2 separate regions of the Homo sapiens genome follow, and region 1 is linked to region 2. The links come from fine-mapping of genetic effects on gene expression. A gene starts in region 2. The other region holds a variant in brackets. All regions are shown on one strand. Distances are from middle to middle.

What was found. PIP is the estimated chance that this variant, and not a neighbour inherited with it, causes the effect.
Region 1: its variant is fine-mapped to the expression of KIAA0753 in whole blood (TOPMed, PIP 0.98).

What each region holds. Positions count from the first base shown.
Region 1 is chr17:6,574,206-6,582,511 of GRCh38, forward strand. KIAA0753 reads right to left here. Exons shown (of 19, transcript NM_014804.3): 19 at 3,942-5,659. The coding sequence ends at 5,542. Among named protein-coding and RNA genes, the nearest start is that of PITPNM3, 22 kb to the left of the region's middle. The variant T/C (reference allele first, on the strand shown) is at 3,969.
Region 2 is chr17:6,636,894-6,645,219 of GRCh38, forward strand. KIAA0753 reads right to left here and starts at 3,818. Exons shown (of 19, transcript NM_014804.3): 1 at 3,744-3,818. It overlaps TXNDC17 (thioredoxin domain containing 17), which reads left to right and starts at 4,167. Exons shown (of 4, transcript NM_032731.4): 1 at 4,167-4,334; 2 at 4,860-4,941; 3 at 5,356-5,431; 4 at 6,058-7,648. The coding sequence starts at 4,190. The coding sequence ends at 6,126. It overlaps MED31 (mediator complex subunit 31), which reads right to left. Exons shown (of 4, transcript NM_016060.3): 4 at 6,418-7,766. The coding sequence ends at 7,574. It overlaps LOC122526780, which reads right to left and starts at 3,423. Exons shown (of 1, transcript NM_001396008.1): 1 at 1-3,423. The coding sequence starts at 3,423. RefSeq lists enhancers at 1-650, 651-1,432, 2,377-2,446, 3,345-4,226, 4,357-4,626 and 1 more.

The DNA of each region.
Region 1 (8,306 bases), 63 kb before region 2:
TCAACTACCCCATAAGGACGCGGTCCAGTTTAGAAACTTCTGGTGGCACCGGAAGCCCTAGAGCAAGGGCGTCCACTGAGGCAGCCCAGGCGGACCAGCTGGAGGGGGAAGCCAGATGTGTATGTGACTCAGAGCAGCCAAAGGCCAGGCCAGGAAAAGTGTTGCCGAGTGTCTAGTGTGACAGGTGAGGCAAGGAAAGACACAGGATTGTGAGCAGGAGAGAGAGTGCAATGGGTGGAAGGAGGCCAGGGACACACTTCGGAACCAAGCCTGCGCGACAAGCTGAAAGGTTCCCTCTTACGAGGTTCTCAGTGGGGAGTCTAATAGGTAACATTTATTGAGCACTTACTGTCTGCTCAGCGTTATTCTAAGTGGTTTCATGGGCATTTCCCTTAATCCTCACAAAAACCTTGGGTGGGTGCTATTTTTTCATCCCCATTTCACCTATTAGGAAACCAAGGCATGAAAATCACACAGGAATTTAACTTGTGGCTCGAATTCTTAATGAGCTGAACTACTGTTGGTATACAAAACAGGAGTGGTTATAGTGATGTAAGGAAAGAATATATGTAAATGCATTTTATAAATTGTAAAGTGCCAGCTAATACGTGAGCTGTTGTTCAAAGCATTCAGGGAACTTTTTTGACCTCTAGTAACTCTCCAGAAGCAATGTGTTGGCTAATTATGGTTAAGAAAAGCCAAATCTCTTATTGAGCCTGGCCCTGGAGATGCCACTCTCCCCCGGGAGGTCTTTAGGGCCACACAGGACGGTGGCTGCACAAGTTTGGTGGCCAGTTTGATCTCCACGGCTCCCTGGACTCCCTGCTTCCTGTATGCACTCGAGAAATCAGTGTCCGCTGAGGGCTTCCTCGGTCAAATTCAGCTCAGGCTTAGGGACCACTGGGGCTGCAGGGCAGATGGCAGAGCCGACATGTCTGGGATCTGAATGCTCCTGCCCCTCGTGATCGCGGCATTTCAGAGCCGGAAGTCTCCCTAGAATTCTCCCCAGTCCACAAGACTTGCCAGGCATGGATAGAGCTATCTCGGAGCACTGAGGGCCTCCCTGTGGCAGGTGGCAGGAATGTGCTGTGGGCTTCCGGGACACAGGCACGGTGACCTTCTGCAGGGCTCTGCAGGCCAGGAGTGAGAGGCCTTAGGCTGACCTCACCAAGACCCACAGTGAAGACAGAGGAACGATGTGTGGGTGGGAGATTCTGGGGAGCCAAGCCGACCAGAAGGGAAACGCATGACTAAGTTCAGCGGGGCAGGCAGAGAGGAAGTGTGGGGGTGGAGGAGGCCGCAGAGCAACACAAGAGGAGAGATCCCCAGTCGGGAGGGTAAAAGGGGACGGGGTGGAGGGCTGCAGTGAAAGCAAAGGGACAGCAGTGACCAGAAGGGGTTTTAGAGGACATGGAGGTGGACGGGGTCTCAGCTGAGATAGTATTTAAGGGTGCTCTTTGGGGTAAAAGTGCCCCAGAAACGACTGGGTAAGACCTTTGAAGGTTCTCCAGAAAGGATTTTGAGGTGTTGGAATGAGTGGAGGGAGAGATAAAACTATGAGACCCAGAGTGTCATGGGGAATGACACCACCAGGGAGAGAGAGGACAGCACATGCGAGTGGCTTGGACTCCTCAAGGGGAGTAGCCAGCTGTGACAAGGTGGGGGGCTGGAAGGCAGCCTTAGTGGTGGGAACGGATGGACCTAACTCCAGGCCACAGGCAGAAGTCCAGTTGGATGGATGGAAAGCGAGCCAGGGAAAATAGTAAAAGCCTGCAGGTCTGGTTCAAGGAAAGGATTTCCAGGTATATGAGGTCAAGAACAGCCAAGGGGACTCTAGGGAAAGCAGCAAATAAAGGATAAAGGGGTCATCTGGGAAGGCAGGTGCAGGCTTGGGGAGAAGACTGGGGAAGGTGGAGCAAGGTCCTGGACAGGCTGGCAAGAGGGGAACCCAGCACTGGAGCTGAACCGGGAGGGGAGCCCTGACTCCGGAAGCCAGCTGTGCACTCCAGGTCGGGGAATGATCCTGCTGGGTCTGTTGCCTGAGTTCACTTGGGCCTGACAACCAGCCCAGGGTCCCTATCTGGGATTTCCTGGGGCCCTTACTGAGGACTGATAGGAAGTACACAGGATGTCAGGTGGAAGCCCCTCCAATCCAGGCCCACGTTATTGGACTCAGTCAACATGCCAGTGTGGAAACAGATCTGAGATCTCGGCTCCTGAACTAATGGAGCTCAGTGGGGCAAGGCCACTGCCCTTCTGCTGCTCTTCAAGAGCCCAGAGAACCAGGAGCCCTTTCACAGGCTGGCCCCTCCCAAAGGTCACTTCTGTGGTGATCATAAGCCCATGATGATGTGGACACCCCTGAATTTACAGGCTCTGCAGGGAATTCTCACTACTGTCTCACGTTGCTAAAATAAAGAGAGCTCCTCTCAGAAACACAGAAGCGTGATGGAAACCTACACTGTCACAGAGAGCACAGGGGACTTTCTGACTTGGACCCTTCCTCTTGCTGTTGGCCCTGGGGCTTCCCTCAGGCCCTTCCTTCTGCCTTTCAGACCCACTGGCCACAGTGCAGTTCATGCCTCCACCTCCCCCACTCCCCCAACACACACACACACAAACACACTCGGACCACCTTCAGGAAAGCAGGAACCGTGAGCCCAGGGAGGAAGTGGAGTGAGGAAAGCGCTTCTCTCCTCACCATCTCTCCTCCAAACCCCAGCTCCGGCGGGCAGAGGGAGAAGGGACCACAGTGCTGAAATAGTAACAGAACACAAGAGGCAAGGGGCTCCCATGCACATCCTTCTGTCTTCTTCTCCAGTCCCTGGGCCGCCCCAGCTTAGTCCCCAGGAGCACCCTGACCAAGGCTCGCTCAAGGTCAGGAGCAGCATGAGGCTGAGGCCCATGCCCTGCTCTAGGAGGAAGGAAGCAAGTTCTTGCCATCTGAGCTGGAATTGCAATGGCAGCAGTACCTCCAAGATGGAATTATAGTTCTCAAATGGCATTCTATCTCGGGGTCACAAAAGGACATCATAGATTTCTGTGGACTATATGAGATGTGACAGACCCCCCCGTATAAAGTCAATCAGCCTGCCCTTCACCTTTCATTAATTCAGAAGAATTTACTGAGCACCAACTACAAGCTAGGCAGGGTCCCTGCCCTCAAGGAGCTAAACAGACTAGAGGTAAGCACAGAAACAGACAGAAATCCCGTGTGACCAAGCTGTGCCGGTGGAGCGCTCGGAGTGCATTTTCATGTCTCTGTACACTGGGGACGGCGTATGCAACACAAAAACACTGAACTCGTGTGTTTCTGCTTCTGAAATAGTACACGAATAGTTCGTGAGAAAGCTGAAGGGAATTACAGAATGATGTACGGTCAGCCCTTGTTCATGAAGAACAAAAAATTCTAGATGTCTGGGCTGGCTGCGAGGCGATAAACGGGAACTTTTATATTCTAAGGATTTAGCTTCCATTTGCAAAGAAAAATGTTTATTTCTTGCAGTATATTTTTGTGTCTTTGGAGAATGCTCTGGCTGTGGATGTTTGCGATGGGCCAGGGATATAAAGTTGACACCTGGACACTGGGGCTGGTTGAAGCTCCACCCACATGAGTCAGAGAAAGGCAGATCCACCTGGTGGGAGGAGCAGGAGAGAGTGGGAAGATCCTGAAACAAGGCAAAGCCTGGGCTCGGCCTTTCAGGACACAAGCTGCAACAGGAAGTGTGAGAATGGGACTGCCCCAGCACACGCCGAGTGGGGATAGGGAAAGGCAGGAAGATGAGCTCAGGTAAACTCCAAGTTTGTTTGGTCAAATTATCTCCTCCTGTGCCTCGTTTTATTCATCTATACAATGGGAACAATGATGCTCTCCACCTCACAGAGATGAGGTGAGGATTAAATAAGTTACTACATGGCAAGCACGGAGAGCAATGCTCTAGTAGGTGCTCAATAAATGTTAGCTTTTA[T/C]TGTCACTAATTTTTTTCTCGGGGGGAAGGGGTGGCAAATAATCCACTATAGTCATATCACATATAAAAGTATTCTCAGTGGTTTCTGTAAATCACATTTCACTTTGCCTGTGGGAAAAAAAGGAGATGTAAGTTATTTAAAATAGGCACATACTTTAAAATATTGGGTTTATTTTAAAAACTCAGCACAGTACAAACTGCCACACAAATTACTTTATACTAGCAACAACCGGTGCTCCTATTAATTCAAGTGTACACATTTAACTCCCCAGGTTAAACACCCTGTAATTTACCTTGAAGCTCTTTACATTCTGAAGTTATATAAAATTAAGCAGGAAAACATTAACATTAAATGAAAATCAATTTTGCACAAATAAGTGTGATCAAGCAGCTTAAATCACCTGAAATTCTTGTACTTCAGAGAAAAATCCCAGATGACGGCACTGGACAGGTTATAAAGAGTTCCCTTATTCCCTGGGGGCGTCTCAGGCATTCTTTCTGCATGTTTCCTTCACTGAGCCTCAGGCTACGAATTGAGAGAAAGTCTTTCCAGGCAGTGGCCTGATTCTTACGCACATTCCGTTTCTTTTTCTGAATTCAGAGTTTCTGAAAACACAGGCTTTTCTCTTGGAAAACATGATCTGTAAGATGTTGGAGGACCAGGCTATGATGGTTCTTAAGTTTCTTCCTTTCTCTGGGGAGACACAGAGGTCTTCGCGCCATCCATCTGTTCCCTACTCCCACTTGGGTTCCTTTGTGGTATGAAATAGAGACACTTCTGACCTCATCGGAGACACAGCGAGGTCTGTACCTTCACCCAGGCACAGGAGAAGGCCTGGTCCTCTCCTGATTCCTCAAACTTCCTCTGAATCCAGAGAAAGTTTTTTATACCAGATTGTGTCAACACACAGCAATAAAATATGCTGAGGAACTAAAAATGTGAAAATCACCTAGGAATGGAACGTTGAAGAAATGTGTGTCTATTATTGTGCACTGACAGCCAGGGGGCTCCTGTTTGGAATAAACTGCAGCAGAGGAGAGGTTTGGCAGCACAGCCAGACTGTGCTCTCCCTGAGTCTACAGCCTAGTAGGGCCAGAGGTCCTGACAGGAAATCGCCAAAGATGCAAAACAGGGGCCCCGTGATGGGACCAGCTAGTAGCCGCACTTGTGTTGGTATCAATGCCAGCAAGGGTTCAACAGCAACCTGAATCCTTGTGTGAAATATACGTATCGATTATCTTTCAAAACATTTTCATCACCAAACTGAGCCAGAGGAATGAACATGGTATTTCAATAGGAAAAGTACACATTCTGAAAATATTGCCATAATCAAGTTGTGTTGCCTGGGCACTGATAAGTGTGATACATTGCATCATACATTTCCAGAACCATTGCCATGACAAAAGAAAATGCAAAGTGAGGATGACCTCCCCGGCACTGCCTTCCTTTCAGTGGGCAGCACCTTCTGGGCCTGGATGGACAGCTGAGGATGAAAATTTCCTGTGGGCCAAAACAAAGGGTGGTGCCATCCCTTCTCCAGTGTGACACAAATGGCCTCGCCTCAGAGAGCCTTTATGTAGCAGCCTCTAAGAATTCTGAGGTGAACACAGCTTCTGCATAATCTTCGCACATATCCTGAAGTTCAGCAGCCACAGCACCCAGAGCTTCATCTACCAGCTCTTCTGAAAAGCTGGAAGACAAACAACACAACTAAAGGTATGTACAAGGCCAGGCGCGGTGGCTCACACCTGTCATCCCAGCACTTTGGGAGGCCAAGATGGACAGATCACCTGAGGTCAGGAGTTTGAGACCAGCCTGGCCAACATGGTGAAACCCGGTCTCTACTAAAAATACATAAAATTAGCCGGGCGTGGTGGCATGCACACCTATAAACCCTGTTACTCAGGAGGCTGAGGCAGGAGAATCGCTTGAACCTGGGAGGTGGAGATTGCAGTGAGCAGAGATCACACCACTGCACTCCAGCCTGGGCAACAGAGTGAGATTCCGTCTCAAAATAAATAAAATAAAATAAAGGTATGTACAGCCATATATGGGAGCCATTCTTTTACTCAGCTGTGGAAATTAACAAGTCAATTCTGAAATCTAAATGGAAATTCAGAAGGCCAAGAACAGCCAAGATACTTTTTTTTTTTTTTTTGAGACGGAGTCTCGCTCTGTTGCCCAGGCTGGAGTGCAGTGGCACCATCTCGGCTCACTGCAAGCTCCGCCTCCCGGGTTCACACCATTCTCCTGCCTCAGCCTCCTGAGTAGCTGGGACTACAGGAGCCCGCCACCACGCCTGGCTAATTTTTTGTATTTTTTTAGTAGAGATGGGGTTTCACCATGTTAGCCAGGATGGTCTCAATCTCCTGACCTCGTGATCCGCCTGCCTTGGCCTCCCAAAGTGCTGGGATTACAGGCATGAGCCACTGTGCCCGGCCAAGATACTTTTGAAGAAGAAAAACAAGGTGAGAGGCCCTGCTCTCCTAGACAGAAGGATGGTGGTGCTTAGATCCCAAAGTCCTGCTAGAGGGACAGGCCTAAAACATACACAGGATGGACTTCATCCTCAATGTGTTTGAAACCAGAGGCGACCAGAAACTAACCAGCTGCAACCTAGCCCCACCTCTAACAGCTGCCTGACCGGCCGACGGAGGAAGGGGTGTGCCTTCTCTGTAGGAGACGGGGGAGGACACTAGGGGACTCTGCACGGGTGCTCCTCTGTACACACACACACACACACACACACACACACACCTTCATTTTCTGAACGGCGCAAGCTTCGTATCTCCCAAGTAGCCCTACAAACAAGGACATTCTCTTAAATAACTATGGTACAATTATAACAATTATAAAATTAACATTGATACAAAACTAGTATCTATTCTACAGGCCTATCTATCTACAGGCCTTATTCAAATTTTGCCAACCATCCAAATAATTTCCTTCAAAAGAAATTTTTTGCTAGTCCAAGGTTCCAGTCTGGGATTCCATGTCGCATTTTGTTGTCACAGCTCTTTAGTCTACTGTAATCTAATAGTCCTTCAGTCTTTCTTTGCCTCTCATGACCTTAACATTTTTTAAAGAATAAAAGCCTTTTTTTGGGGGGGTGGGGAGAATATCCCTCAATTTGGGTTTTTTCCTTATGATCAGATTCAGGACATACGGTTTTGAAAGAGATGCCACAGAAGGATAGTGTGTCCCTTCAGTGCACCATGATATCTATTTGATATCCATTAATGATGTCAGTTAATTTTGCATCACTGGGTTACGGTGATGTCTGCCAGGTTTCTCCCTTGTAAAGTTACTGTTTTCCCCTTTGTAATTAATAGGTATAGTGGAGGGAGATACTTTGAGACTATGTAAACTCCTGTTTCTCATGAAATTCGCCTAAATCAATTATTACAGGGTTGCCAAACACGGATTTTCTACTTCCATCACTTCTTCTCCATTTAATAGCTGGCATTCTACTGTAATGAAAGCTTTCCCTTGTCTTTTACTTATGTATTCATTCCTATCAGTTTGGCCTTATAGATTTTTATTTTATTGTATAGTTTGTAATCCATTACTATTATTACATATTTCGATGCTTGAAAATGTCCTGGATTTGGCCCGTAGGTGCCTCTTGGGAACTCCTGTGAACTCTCGACATGTCCCCATCTTTCTTTGAGCACTTCCTTTCTAGCACAGTATGTCTGAGGCTTATCTTACATTTTTCCAGCCCCAGGCTTATAGTCAGCCATTCTTCCAAGAAGCCCTCGTGCCTCTTCATCTGGTGCCTCTTCATGGAGAACGGTATTTAGAAACCAAGATGTGGGTACTGGGTGTGCTCACTGCTACTGGCACCTCTGCTTCTGGGCCTTCTCAGCAGACAAACTAAGAAACACCCTGTATCTATTTCTACGTCTATAAAAAACCATATATTCATCCCAGCCTTCCCCTAGAAACCTTGCTCCCATTATTCACAATGTACTTACTTATTTGACCAATCCTAAAATATAGAGAAAATAGTTTTCAACTGTTAACCCATGTCACTGTATAAAAGAAACCTACAAACTAGAATCCAGTTATGTGTTTACAGTTCTTTTTGTCTTTAGCCAGAGGTAAAGAGTCAACATACTGTGTTCAAAAGTTATTTAGGCTTCATGCCGTTAATATGATTATATTATTTATTTGAAATACAGTTAAGTTCATGTTTCTGTTTGTATTCGACTTAAGGCCCCCGCCCCATCCCTGTTGACTAAGGGGATGTATAAGAAACATTAACATGGTTTCAAAAGTCAGAGTTACACAAAAATGGTAAATGCAGATAAGTTTCACTCCCCCTCTCCTATTCC
Region 2 (8,326 bases):
GTGGTCTCTGAAATGGCCAAGGCCTATTTCCTCCCTTGAAACTGAGGGTACCCCCACAGCTGTTCTTGTCCCTGACATGCCTAGAGCATTCTCATAGGCTGTTTCTTCCCCCAAAGACCTTGGACAGCTCCATAACCTGGCCCCAGGCACACAGGTGTGAGATGTCCCCACAGCCTGGCTGCCCCCGGCCAGTCCCAAAATATTCCCACCTCCTGTCTCATCCTCTGAAGCCCCCACTCCCCCTGTGGACTGTCTCCTCAGCACGGTCAGACCTGAGACACCCACGTCCGCTTCTGCTCCTGAGGACCCAGTCACCCACACCGCAGCAGGCGCACGCCCTGCCATGGGAGCTCCTACAGCTGCAAGCACCCCCAGAGGCAGAGGCACCCTCCCGGCCTCGGGAATGGCTCCACCGTGTCTCCTTCTCCACAGGCCTGAGACACCTTCAGAGCCTGTCTCCCCCTCCACAGGTCCAGGAACCCTGGCAGCTGTGGGCCCCTCAGTGGCCAGTCTCCTTCCCCATATGCCTGAGCCGTCATCCCCAGAGCCCGTATCCCCTACCATTGGCCCTGGAAGCCCGGGAGCTGTGGGCACTCCCACGGCCATGGAACCTCTAGCAGCCACAGGCCTCCCAGCAGTCTGCCTTCTTCCAGACAGGCCAGAGACATGCTCAAAGATGGTCCCCTCCCCCACAGACCCCAGCAGCCCCACAGCCATGGACACTCCTGTAGTCTGTCTGCCTCCCAACAAACCTGAGACACCCCCAGAGCCAGTCTTCTCCGCCATGGGCCCAGGCATCCTGGTCGAGGTGGGCACCTCCATCCTTGTGGGACCCTTGGCATCTGCAGGTCCGCCCACTGTCTCTCTTTCACCCCACAATTCTGAGCCAGTTTCCTCTTGCACAGGCCTAGGCACCCTGGGAGCCACGGGCACCCCACTAGCTGCAGACAGCCCCACAGTGCCAGGCATTCCTGCAGTTTGCTGCCTCCCTGACAAGCCTGAAAAGCCTCCATCACCAGGCTCCAGCTCCACAGAACCAGGCACCCTAGGAGCCAGAAGGACTTCGGTGGCCACAGGAGCCCTGACCCTCTGTCTCTGTCCCCAGGGTCTTGGGATACCCCCAGAGTCAGTCTCCCCCCCAAGCCCAGGCCCCTCAGGCACCACAGGAACCCCAATAGTCTGTCTCCTCCCCCATGGGCCCGGGAAGGCCCCAGAACCACAATCCTCCCCGCCAGACCACAGCTTCTCCCGAGCCACGTGTCCCCCTGAAGCCACGGATTCCTCCCCGCCTGACCACAGCTCCTCCTGAGCCACGGGTCCCCCTGAAGCCACGGATTCCTCCCCGCCAGACCACAGCTCCTCCCGAGCCACGGGTCCCCCCGAAGCCACAGATATTCTGGCAGCCCGAGTCCTTTCCCACAGGTTCAAAATGTCTCTAGAGCTGCCTTCCTGACACACAGGACCAGACGCCCACACAGCAGCAGGCACTCTGGCAGGCACCTTTCCAGAGCCGGGCACACCCATTGCCATGAGGACCCCTGCTGCGGCACACCCCTGCCGGGGCACATCTGCTGCCCTGGGTATGCCCACCGTCTCAGACACCCCCACAGCCTGCCTCCTCCCACACTGACATGCAACATCTCCACAGCCAGCCTCCTGATCCACTGACCCAGGGACCCCTAAAGCTGGAGGCCCCAGACTCTCTGGCTCCCCCACAGCCTGCCTCCTTTCCCACGGGCTCAGAACATTCCCACTACAGGTCTCCTCTCCAAGCCCAGGCACTGCCTCGGCTGGGGGCCCCCCAAGAGCTTGCTGTCCGTCCCACAGGCCCAGGCCCCCGCTGTGGCTCAGCTCTTCTCCCAGGGCTCCAGGTACCACCACAGCCTGGGGCACCCTTACCATCTGTCCCGCTCCCCACAGCCCTGGGACACTCACACAGCCCGTGTCCTTCCCCAAGGCCCTGGGTACCCCTGTAGCCTGTTGTATCCCCCACAGGCCTGGGGCACCCCCAGAACCTGCTGCCTGCTCCCCAGGACATGATGACTCTGCAGTCTGCGCAGCTCCCCGTGACCCTGGATCACCCCCAGAGCCTGTCTCCACCCACACAGGCTGTCCCCTTTCCCTGAACCCTGGGTCACCTCCACATCTAGTTTCCTCTTCAGCAGCACAGGGCACCCCAACAGAGTATCCTGTGCCCCACGGGCCGGGCATACCCACAGAGTCTGTCTCCTCCACAGCCTGTCTCCTGTAACACACACCTGCGGCACCCACAGAAGTAGGCTCCTCCTCCACAGCATCGGACACCCCCACAGCCTGTCCCCTCCCCCATACGCCAGGGGTGGCCCCACAGACTGCTTCATGTGTCAGAGCCCCAGGAATCTGCGGGGACTGTCCTCTCCCCCACAGACCTGCAGCACCGCCACAGCCGAGCTCTCCCTCCATGGCTCTGGGCGCTCCCACAGCCCCAGTCCACCCCACGGTCCCAGGCTCGCCCATAGTCTGTTCTTTTTCACAAGGGCCTGAGACAAACCCATAGCCTATCTCCTCCCCAGTCTCAGGAACCCCCACAGCTTCTCCCCTCCACAGGTGCGGGGCCATTTCAGAACTTGACGCCAAAGCCCCAGGCACACTCGCAGGAGGCACCCTCCCAGCCTGTCCCTGTCCACAGAAGCCTAAGGCTCTCTCGTAAGCTGCCCCTAAGCCCAGAGCTGTGGGCCCTGAGGGGGCCCGAGGGATCCCCCTTGCCTGTTCCTTCACCCAGGGCCCTGTAAGACCGCCGCGGCTTGTCTCTACCCAGGAAGCTCGGCCAGGAACACCCCTTTCGACAGGTCCCTCTCCTGCAGGCACGGGATGGAGCTCGACTCTACTTCCTTCCCCACATCCCGAGGCGGCCCTCATAGCCTGCACCTTCAGCCACAGGTGCAGAATGCTCTCATGGCCCAGAGATCCCGGGCGACCTTTTCTCTCGCAGCCCCGGGGACTTCTATCTTCGGTCTCCTCCTCCCCAGACCCGGTCACCCACACAGCCCCGGCAAGCCCCACCACCTCGGGCTCCCCCACAGCCCCGTTCACCCACACAGCCCCAGGGTCCCTTGCAGCCTCGATGGAGCCTGGGGTCCCAGGAGCTCCCAAAGCCTCATTCGCCCCGGCGGCGTCGGCTGTCTCCGCCGCTTGTCTCGTCCCCCATGGCCGCTGACGGCCCTGTGGCCTTTCTGCACTCACACAGCGCGTCTCCCACTCCGAGGGCTTCGCCCGGCGCCTTGCTCCACGGCCTCGGGACGTCCCTGCGCCCCGTCTCTTCCCCCACGGCCGCCGAACCCCCCGCCCCGACCTGCTGGGCCCCACGCAGCGACCCGGCATCTTAGCCGCCTGCTCTCCCCGGCGCAGCCTGGGCAAGGCCCCACGGCGAGTCTCCCGGCTCATAGCTCCAGGGCAGTTCCCTTCCTCCCTACCGCGGCCCTGGGGGATGTCTTAGCACCTCGCTCCCTAAGCTGCTCCACACACGCACTCACACACTCCGCTCCGGCCTTGCAGCCTTTCTCCCTCCGAGCCCCTCACCCATCCCACCCCCGCCCAGTCTCGGGAACCCGCCCCCAGTCCCAGGCCCCCGTAAAGCCTAGACGGCAGAAAAGGTAACTGGGGGGACAAAGCAACAAAGGCTTTCCGAGTCAGATCTCCTCTCCCCCAAGTCCATGACTCTATGCGGCTTCCCAGAATCCCCCCCAGCCCCGGCCCGAGCCCACCTGGCCTAGGGTGAGGCGCGGCTACTGGGAGGCGGGCAACGGGGGCCCCCAACAAGGCCGCGCTTCCGGCCGCCTGCCCAGTCGCCATAGCAACAGGCGCAGGGCGGCTTGGGAGCCTTTGAGGCCCTGAACTATTTAAGGATCCAGGTGTTGCAAGGCGGTAAGTTTTGCAGCCAGTGTCCATGAGGTCGGGGCTGGGACTAGATTAGGGTAGATCTAAGCCTGGGCTTGGGAGTGCAGCTAGCGCAGAAAGATCTGAGGAACTAGAGCAAAAAGCCATGCGGATGGATTGTGGTCGTCAGAGGCTCCCGTAGTCTTTAGCGGCGCTGGCTTCCGCAGGCTCCGCCCTCTCTTGCCCACCCGGAAACAGCCTCGCCCCGCCTACGCGGGACCCAACCGCGGCGACCGGACGTGCACTCCTCCAGTAGCGGCTGCACGTCGTGCCAATGGCCCGCTATGAGGAGGTGAGCGTGTCCGGCTTCGAGGAGTTCCACCGGGCCGTGGAACAGCACAATGGCAAGACCATTTTCGCCTACTTTACGGGTTCTAAGGACGCCGGGGGGAAAAGCTGGTGCCCCGACTGCGTGCAGGGTGAGGCCGGGATTCGGGGGCTGCTGTCCAATGGAAATGGCAGGAAGGTCGAGCCTACGGCCAGAAGGGGGGCTTAGCGGAGGCAGAGTCTTGGTTCCAGACATCCGCGGAGCAATCTGAGCTGTCCCCAAGTCTCCTTCTATTAAATCCTACCCCGCCCTGCCAAGAGCGCTCTTCCTTTTACCACCTTACCCGGATGATCTTGGAATCTAGTTCCTTAAAACTTCTCACTCCCCCAGTACCATTAGTGTCTTACAGGATACGTGAGTTGGTCAGCAAATACATGTGCTTTCCATTGTTACGGGCGCGGTGGTGCAGGGGCAAATCGGGACTGGGATTTGGTCCTTACCCTTAACGTGGCTCTAAGACCAGAAGGGAACACCTGACTTGTGTTGACCTCTTCAGTTAGCTGCAGGTTAAAGTCTGAGTGCTTACCAAGACTGGGGGAAGGGGGAAAGAACACAGTTTATACGTGCCTGATTGTAGAGTTGACGTGCGATTATTTTATCTCAACTTTTTTTAAAGCTGAACCAGTCGTACGAGAGGGGCTGAAGCACATTAGTGAAGGATGTGTGTTCATCTACTGCCAAGTAGGAGAAAAGCCTTAGTAAGTGGCAATGTATAATCTACCTCGCAGACGTGCACAAATTGCATACTTAGGCGGGAAGGGCCTCAGGGACTTACTTACCCAGTTTGTCTTACAAGGTAATGTCTGACAAGTTAAACAATTAGAAGCTATTAAATACAAATTTAAAATGCCCACCTGAATTAAGTAAGGGTAATTCAACGAATTTGGTCTGGTGTAAGCCCAGAACTTAGCTGGCTTTACTTTTATATCTTAGTCACACTTTGAAACTTTGCACAGGGTAATTAGTAGATTAAGCCATAGTCCGCAAGGTTTTTTAAGTGTTTGCAAGAACAGTGATTACTAAAAAATTAAATGTAGGACTATGTCAAATATTAAGCAAACTGTAATAAACCAAGTAAATTTTTTTCATGATCACTTTTTCTTTTCGAATAGTTGGAAAGATCCAAATAATGACTTCAGAAAAAACTTGAAAGTAACAGCAGTGCCTACACTACTTAAGTATGGAACAGTAAGTATCTTTAAATATGCTGGGCCTGTAATTCACTGTCAGAACTCTTTTAACTTGCTGTGGATCCAGATTTGAAAAGATCTTGACATTTCATCTCAATTCCATTGTTGTTCAGAGTGCTGCTGAAAGTCCATTCCTATGGCCAATCCCAATAAACTGATAATGTAAATATCTAGCTATTAGGTCTTTTTCATGTTAAGTCACTCTTAAAAAACCAGAAAGTAGGTTGACTCATAATTCCTTAAAACATTTGCATCAACAGTTGTTTTCTGTTTAATTCATAATTCTGGTTAAAAAGTAAGGGCATCTCTTCTAGTTCAGTCATGCCCCTGGGATCCTAAATTAAAGAGTTGAGGGGAAGAAGAGGGCACTGGGCTTGCTGTCTCCTGTTTTAGTCTGTGGAGCTTCCTGGTATTTGGGGTTTAAGTCTCTTGAGCCAAGTATGTTAGTGATTCATCTTACAGCAAATATATTGATTCTTTCATAAAACTTGTTATAACTAGATGATAGTTTCTGAATTGCGTAATTTCTGTGTTCAAAGATGAGTGTCATTCAAGGCAGAACTCATTCCACTCCTAATAACGTTTTATAGAAGTAGTGAAGATTTGACTGTTTTTCTCTTACAGCCTCAAAAACTGGTAGAATCTGAGTGTCTTCAGGCCAACCTGGTGGAAATGTTGTTCTCTGAAGATTAAGATTTTAGGATGGCAATCATGTCTTGATGTCCTGATTTGTTCTAGTATCAATAAACTGTATACTTGCTTTGAATTCATGTTAGCAATAAATGATGTTAAAAAAACTGGCATGTGTCTAAACAATAGAGTGCTATTAAAATGCCCATGAACCTTTAGTTTGCCTGTAATACATGGATATTTTTAAGATATAAAGAAGTCTTCAGAAATAGCAGTAAAGGCTCAAAGGAACGTATTCTTGAAGGTGACGGAAATACCTAAAAACTCCTAAAGGTGCAGAGCACACCTTCCAAATCTCTCAAAAGATCAGTATCTTTTATTTTAAGTTATCTCCATCTGCAAAGCAACTGATGATATTCCTGAAACCCCTTCTTTGATTTTGGAATGTAGAACCTAACCTCACCACTGAAGGAAAGCACATGACCTCTAATCTAGCCTCTGCTTAATTCAGGCAGTTTTGTTTTGTTTAATAAAAAACAGACTCCTGAGCACTAGAAGCAGTTTGTTTTGCAGCTGTCTCAATGTGCTTTACTTGGGATGAGGCAGGTGGCGGAGAGCGGCCGGAAAGACTCTATAACCCAGTTCTGGGAAGAACTCCAAGCTGGGAGTCAGTCACACTGACTCTACCACTTACTAGCTGTGTAACCACAGGCAAGTTACTCACCCCGTCCAAACCTCAGTTTTCTCTTCTATAAACAAGGTTCTTAGAATAAAATGAGAATTCAAGGAAGCACTTAACATAGCACCTGGTTTGTGGTACCTCCCAAATCAATGGTAGCTTTCCCAAATGAACACAAGTATTTGAGGCTCCTCATGTTTGTTCTAAAGTCAAGAGTCCAGTTAGTAACTAACCACTAGTTGTCCTGCCATGACTAGGTCAAGTGAGGCCACAGTGATTCAGTGATTCTTAAAGCCACCTTGCAAAGCAGGTAATACAGTTATTTCCTGTCCTGCAGAATTCAAGAACCTTTATGCAGTTCCTGTCCTATGATTTAAAGAGGTCAGTGACTCCGCTACTCTCACTACATCTTAGAGTAGAGTGGTAGAGTAGTTGATCTGAGACAGTAAGGTTCCAGGAGATGGTCTTGCCCTACTATATGTCAGGAACAGCTAGCCTTAGAATTCAGTATACTTGGTGGCCCACCCCTACCCCATGCCCCAGTGCCTTATTTGGTCTAAAGCACCTAACTTTTCCATTCTTAATCAGCTGATTATGCTAAATGCGTAAAAAAGAAAAACACCTTACAAATCCACAGGGAAATCAAAGAACAATTCAGGTTTAACAGAAATAGTCTATTAACAATAAAAAGTTGGATGAAAAAGCACACTAAAGGTTCTAGGGGCTACCATAATAAAGGTAGATAGGAAGAGTTTTCATTTTTTTTGTCTTCACTGTACAAAAGAAATACATTATATACATGTATTAAGTGCCTCGTTTGTATCCAGTTTTTCATTTTCCCGATGTGTTATTTTGCTGTTGCTGCTCTGCCAAGGCTTGCTGAAGGCGCATCCGCTTCCGGGAATAGTGCTGCCAATGTAGAATCTGCTGTTCATCAATAAATTTCGCACACTGAGCATTCACCAGCTCCTTTCGGAAGTGTTCATATTGGAGCAGCTCTAACATGTGTAAACACTGAGGGTACCTGGGTTTAAGTTTGTAAGTGAATGAACAACATAATTTAGGTAAATAATGCCAAGGTATAATTCAGTTATTCTCTTAAAAACGATCTTGTAGCCTACCATTTCTATAACAGTAACTTAGTACACTCTGGTAGCATAGGGTTTTTTCCCCGATTAGTCATCAAAGGTCAGTGTTCAATATTTTCGAAAATGAGAAGGTTTAAGTTCAGAAAGATTAAATTAACTTGCTCAAGACCACACAACACAGTAACTGGTAAGCAGAGTGAAAATTTAGGGACAAACCATGCTATTCCCTTCTAGCGGTTTCCAACGTGAAGAACATGAACATATTTTAGTAATTATGTGTTTAATTGATAGTTACTCATTTTTCCTTCAATAGGGATAAAAAGACAACTTTCATTTAAAAGTGAGTGTGAAAGAGGACTATGCGCATACATTGTACTCTTGTTGTCCACAGGGATATACCAATTCTGAAATTAGATATACTCTAGGATTGGACAAGCAAATATACTGTGGATAAGGACAGCCAAATTTCTGGCTATCAGAAAAGGAGTTATAGACA